Homo sapiens: one gene and its partner. The protein of the gene in region 2 interacts with the protein of the main gene of each other region in a pairwise test. Each region holds a gene or a part of one and is shown on either strand. Other genes may lie near its edges.

Region 1 (3,824 bases), on a different chromosome or scaffold from region 2:
CCAGCTCATTTATTTTAGTAGAGATGGGGTTTCACCATGTTGGCCAGGCTGGTCTCAAACTCCTGACCTCAGGTGATCTGCCTGCCTCAGCCTCCCAAAGTGCCAGTATTACAGGCATGAGCCATCATGCCCAGCCTGTCAAATAATTTTTGAAAGCCCTCCATGTTGCAGGCATTGTGCTAGGTGCCGGGGATATAGCAGTAAGCAGAAGCAGAACAGACAGGATTCTGCCCTTCGGGAACTTACACACTATTGTTTCCAACAAGCACTCACTATTAAAGCTAGGATGGACGTGCTAAAAAAAAAAAAAAAAAAAAAAAAAAAGAGAAAAAGAAAAAAGCTTTTCTTATTGAAAAAATAATCAATATATGATTCTTTCAGAAAAACATGCCAAAAACAAAAGAAAACCACCCTTAGAATCTCCCAGTGATAACGCTATTAACACCCTGGTGTGTAACTTTCTAGATCTGTGCAGCCCAATATGTCACTAGTCACATGTGGTTATTTAAATTTAATAAAAATTGTATAAAAATAAAAATACAATTCCTTGGCCACACTAGTCACATCTCAAGTTCTCAAGGGCCACATGGGTATAGTGGCCACCACATGGAAAAGCTCAGGTCCAGAATATTTCCATCTTCACAGAAAGTGCTGGTCTAGGTCCTAGTCTAGATAAATGCTCCCATACATATATAAACTTTTTTCTTACATAAAAGTGTTAAGATTAAAAAATACATGGCCAGGCGCATTGGCTCATGCCTGTAATCCCAGCACTTTGGGAGGCTGAGGCAGGTGGATCACCTGAGGTCGGGAGTTCAAGACCAGCCCGGCCAACCTGGTGAAACCCCATCTCTACTAAAAATACAAAAATTAGCTGGGCATGGTGGCAGGGGCCTGTAATCCTAGCTATTCGGGAGGCTGAGGCAGGAGAATCACTTGAACCCGGGAGGAGGAGGTTGAGGTGAGCCGAGATTGCGCCATTGCACTCCAGCCTGGGTGACAGAGTGAGATGCCATCTCCCAAAAACACACACACACACACGCGCGCGTGCGTACGCGCACATGCACTATTTGTTTTTGTTTGGAGACAGAATCGTGCTCTGCCTCAGCCTCCTGAAGTGCTGGGATTACAGGCATGAGCCACCACCATGCCCAGTCACATGTACTATTTTATAAACTGCTTGAGTCACTTTATATATACCTATGTTATTAATGGCTTCATAATATTTCATTTTATAAAAAGTCCATAGTGTATCTGACCCAACTTTCCTCATACTAAATATTTAAGTTGTTTCCAACTGTTCTGTGCTTACCAAACAGGTTTGTAAGGAACACCCCCAAGGCTAAATCTCTACATTTGGCCTTCGTGACTTGCTTTGGATAAATCCCCTTACATGGAATTGCTGGGTCTACCCCACCCCACTGGGCTGTGGACCTGGGGACACCAAACCTGTTGCACCACCATTCAGTTTATATATATACATATATTTTTTAATAAGATAGAGTCTTGCTATATTGCCCAGACTGGTCTCAAACTCCTGGGCTCAAGCCATCCTCCCACCTCAGCCTCCCAAGTAATTAGGGATGACAGGCATGAGCCACCCATCCAGCTTGCCCCACCATTTTAGATCATTTAACTGTCACAGGTGTCTGTCCCTGTTTGGCCTCCTCTACTCTCCCCTAACTTGTGCAGAGGAATCACATCTTGCATAGCTCTGTCAACTGCCATTGCACCTATCACACGTAATACTCAAAGCAGATGCTTGAAAAAACTGTTTTTTTGGCTCATTTCCAACTTTACCTTTTCATTTTGTAGTCCATCTCGGGGACCAACTTCCACAATTTTCACCCGCTTTGGTAAAGTGCCCATAGATGAGGTGCTGACCTTTGGTTTAAAAGAGGAAACAAAAAGTATGAGGAAGAGATTGCCACAATTCCCAGGGAGACCAATATGAAAGAATGGATCTATCTTCACTAATAATGAGACAAGAAGAAATATTTCTCACCATTTAATTCACATTTGGTCTATTTTAGAATTAAGAACAAAAAGAATATTTCACTTAGTAACAGGAACAAGCAAGAGATTCATCCTTCCAGTACCGGTTCTCCCCTGAAGTCCAGACTCCTTTTCCACTGCCTACCTGACAGCTCTATTCGCATCTCTTCATATAGCAGTCCCGAAACAGAACTCTAATTTCTCCTAAAGCCCATCTGACTCCATCCTTTCCATCTCTGTCAAAGGCATCGCATGTACCCTACTGCATAAGCCAGAACTTCATTGAGCCATTTCACCTATTCACCATGGCCTATAGGACTCTGTATGCTGCTGTATGTATGTTAGAAGTAGTTTAAAAAGGCCAGGTATTGCGGGGGGCAGTGGCTCATGCCTGTAATCCCAGTACTTTGGGAGGCCGAAGCGGGCGATCACTTGAGGTCGGGAGTTTGAGACCAGCCTGACCAACATGGTGAAACCCCATCTCTACTAAAAATACACAAAAAATAGCCGGGTGTGGTGGTGCACGCCTGTAACTCCAGCTACTCAAGAGGCTGAGGCAGGAGAATTGCTTGAACCAGGGAGGTGGAAGTTGCAATGAGCCAAGATCGTGCCACTGTACTCCACCTTGGGCGACAGAGGAAGACTCCATTTCCAAAAAAAATAAAAAAAGGCCAGGCACGGTGGCTCATGCCTGTAATCCCAGCACTTTGGGAGGCCAAGGCAGGCAGATCACTTGAGGCCAGAGGTTCGAGATCAGCCTGGCCAACATGATGAAGAAACCCCGTCTCTACTAAAAATAGAAAAATTAGCCAGGTGTGGTGGAATGGACATGTAGTCCCAGCTACTCAAGAGGCTGAGGTGGGAGAATCGCTTGAGCCCAGAAGGTTGAGCCTGCAGTGAGCTATGACTGTGCCACTACACTCCAGCCTGGGCAACAGAGCGAGACCCTGTCTCAAAAAAAAAAATTAAATGACTCTATATGTCACTTGATGCTTTCCAATTAAGAAAAGAAAAGACTGTATGAGTTGCCTCCTCTGACCTCCTGGAATCATCACTCGCCCCTACTGTCCACTCCCAACCTCCACCCAACAGGTTGCTAAGCTCCCTGCCTTCTCTTCCCTCTGCCCCAGGGTTCCTCATCTGGCTTTTTTTAAAAAAACTGGCTGTTCTTACATCTCTCTCTCATCTTTCAGTTGCAGAGAGGCTTCCTCTGACCACCCTTTGCAAAGCTGCCATTCCTCCCACCCCCATTATTTTCGCTATTGCAGAGCTATAATTATTTCCTTCAAAGCACGATAAAGAATGCCTACTCAATGTCTCTTCCAGTAGAACATAAGCTCTTTGAGGGACCTTGTCTGTCTCAACTCCACTTCATCCCTAGTGTTTGGCACCGTGTTTGGTACAAAGTAGCCACTCTTTAAAGTTATTAAAATAACACATAAACCATGAAGGACACAGCTGTCCCAGAAGAGAGCAATTACTGAGTGTGGGGAGGAGTAGTCAGTCCTGGACTTTTCGGGGTATGGGCGAGATGCAGGAGGGCTCTCTTCTGTTACAGTCATAGGCTGGGTGATGACAAGCATGGGTCTAAGGGGAGGTGACACCCCCAGTAGCTGAAGACAGTTTTTACAAAATGCCCTGAGTCTCCTCTATATAAAGTCAGCTCAAAATCTTAGTCTTCCCTATCAAGTAACACAATACTTTTTTTTTCCTCTTTCCTCTACCTGTCTTGATACTGTAACTTTTCAAATCAACTTTGTTTTACAGATTTAATCTGGATAAATATACTACAACGAGGCAAAGCGGAAGGCACACTGTGTGATCCGCTA
Region 2 (2,612 bases):
CTCACTGCCTGCTCCTCCCCACTCTGTGACTCCCCCTAACACATCTGCCACTCCCAGTCCCAGTTTTTCTCTCTAGAGCATTTTAGCTCCTGTTCTGGGGTTGAACTGGCCCGATGTGGAGATCCTCCAGGTGGGTTTCATCTGAGTGCATCCAGACTTGCTCGAGTCCCTGTTACCACCCCTCACCCCTCCACCCACCCTGGGGTGGTTATAAGCCTGTTCCCTTCCAAAGCAATTAGTGCAAGGAGGCCAGCCAACTCGGTGCTAATGCTGTTTCATTAAGTGGGAGCAATCCTAATGATAATAAAATGGCACATTTAACATTCAAACATTGAACAGGGTTTCTAAGCGAGTGTGTCTCTCTCTTTCTTTCTGGTATAACAGCTCCATCTTCATAAGGACCTGACAATACACCTTAATGAGAGACTGGGGAGCTGAGCATCTTCACACAACCAGAGAGGGGGTGAGGAGGAGACAAAGAATCCAGAGAAAGGGGGTGCAGCGCATTGAGGGGATAAAGACTCCAAGGGTTCCTGGGTTAATGGATTCTGTGGTGCTAATTTAGACAATTAGAGCCTGGAAGAAATGAGGTCACACAGAAAAGAAAGCCCGCTACAGACTTAATGCAGGGCAGTTATTTATTTGTTCAACAAATATTTATTGTTCATCAAAGACGAGCCAGATTTTATGGGCATTTGTGATGGAGGCTGGCCTTAGCTTTAGGAGAAGGAACTCCAAGAGCAGTAGTGATCTCTGAGATCACCTTGTTCACCCTCCTCGGGGCAGATTTAGTCAAATCCATCCCAAGCTCTTCAAATATACCAGCAAAGAGGTTTTTTTTGTTTTGTTTTTTTTTTGAGACAGAGTCTCACTCTTTTTGCCCAGGCTGGAGTGCAATGGCGCAATCTCGGCTCACTGCCACCTCCACCTCCCGGGTTCAAGTGATTCTCTTGCCTCAGTCTCCCAAGTAGCTGGGATTACAGGCATGCGCCACCACACCCAGCTAATTTTGTATTTTTAGTGGAGATAGGGTTTCACCATGTTGGCCAGGCTGGTCTTGAATTCCTGGCCTCAGGTGATCCGCCTGTCTCAGCCCCCCAAAGTGCCGAGATTACAGGTGTGAGCCACCACACCCGGCCCCCAGCAAAGAGAATTTTTAACAACTGCTTTGGTCTCCAGAGCCAGTTCTTGTGCCCTCTTCTTACTGATATACCCATCTCAAACGTCCTTGCTACTCTGTGATTGTAGAATATCTGATCAACCTTCTGGGAGCGAGAAAGTAGTTGTGAATGGGGAGGTGGCCAAGAAAAGAAGGTAGACTCAATCGTCTGGTGTTTACGGGGGATTCAAGTGAGGCAGAAGAAAAAGGGAGCGGGCCAAGGAAAGAAGGTAGACTCAATCATCTGGTGTTTATGGGGGATTCAGGCGAGGCAGAAGAAAAGGATGATATCTCAGGGACACTCCCTTCATCTGAGACATCTTCTCCATCTGTGAAACTGGCTCCTGTGCACAGAAGGGAGGCTTCTGGCCAGAGGTCAAAGGTGGGCTTTGCCCAGGCTTGGGAAACGGCTGATTCGAAAAGGTGCCAAGTCATAAGATGGTGTTAATTTCATGCTTAATTCATACAGGATCTTCCCCACCACAGGGGCCAGCTTGAACCCGTGCCCTAGGAAGGGAAGAGCAGACTCTCAGGCAGCTTCACAGACAGAGGTTGAGCTCTCTGGACATCCCCTACTTACCCAGACAGGGCTGACTGTCCTCCTGGTCACATCCCAAAGCCAGAAGTGGCCTCCCACCATGAATACCCCTTTTCTGACTGCCCAGCCTCCTTATACCTACAATGTCCAGGCTTCACACCTATCTGGGCAGCTAAGAGTGTGGAAAATACCATTTCACCTGGCACTGAGGTAGGTCAGCTTTAAGGCACCCCATTCCCCCCAGCTCAGACTCACCAGAGAATCCAGCACCAATGACAATGTTGTCATACTTTGGGTGGCGATCGAGAATGAACTGCTCATCAGGGGTATTCTAGAAAGAAACAGTCACACCTTGTGTTCTTTGAGGCTCGAGGGAAGAGAAAGAACTGCAGGCTCTAACTGGAAGGGGATGGGCTGGATTTCTTTCCAGAAAGGATGGAATGAGGCACAAGGATGCTTTCCGCATGCCCGTGCCCCTCTGGGTGTGCCAGTCTTTTTCATTTGTCCGGCTGCCTTTCTTCTCGCACAGAGCTACGAACACAGTAGGTGTTCAGTTAATCTTTGTAAACTAACTTTAGCCAAGATGCCTTAGGCCGTGGTGACATCTGTCTCTTCTCTTTGTCCCTAAGGCCTGCTCAACTGGAGGAGCTTGCCAGAAAATCTTTTAGAGCTCTTCTGGGAATCAGAGTGAAGGACCGACTGCCAGGCATAACCTAGTTTCCTAATGAAGAAGAATAGGAATAATTTCGAACAGGACCCTCCCTGGTAGAGGTGAACCTACCCACAGAAATGAGCCCGTTTGTTTAAAGTCACACACTATGTCAGGGGTCAAACAATCGGGCCTGGCCAGTGCAAGGTCTGTCTCCTTCTTCCCTTCTGTAGAGTGGTGAGGGGGCCCAGCAAGGCTGCCCAGAC

The links.
Region 1: the proteins of PIPOX (region 2) and HMGCL come close enough for resonance energy transfer, tested with the Homo sapiens proteins (one large-scale study listed by BioGRID).

What each region holds. Positions count from the first base shown.
Region 1 is NC_000001.11:23,818,710-23,822,533, forward strand, and holds part of HMGCL (hydroxymethylglutaryl-CoA lyase, mitochondrial isoform 1 precursor), read right to left. Parts: intron 1,885-3,824; coding exon 1,801-1,884; intron 1-1,800. UniProt on the Homo sapiens protein: Mitochondrial 3-hydroxy-3-methylglutaryl-CoA lyase that catalyzes a cation-dependent cleavage of (S)-3-hydroxy-3-methylglutaryl-CoA into acetyl-CoA and acetoacetate, a key step in ketogenesis. Terminal step in leucine catabolism.
Region 2 is NC_000017.11:29,055,229-29,057,840, reverse strand, and holds the end of PIPOX (peroxisomal sarcosine oxidase), read right to left. Parts: intron 2,029-2,612; coding exon 1,953-2,028; intron 1,667-1,952; coding exon 1,536-1,666; 3' UTR 625-1,535; downstream 1-624. UniProt on the Homo sapiens protein: Metabolizes sarcosine and L-pipecolic acid.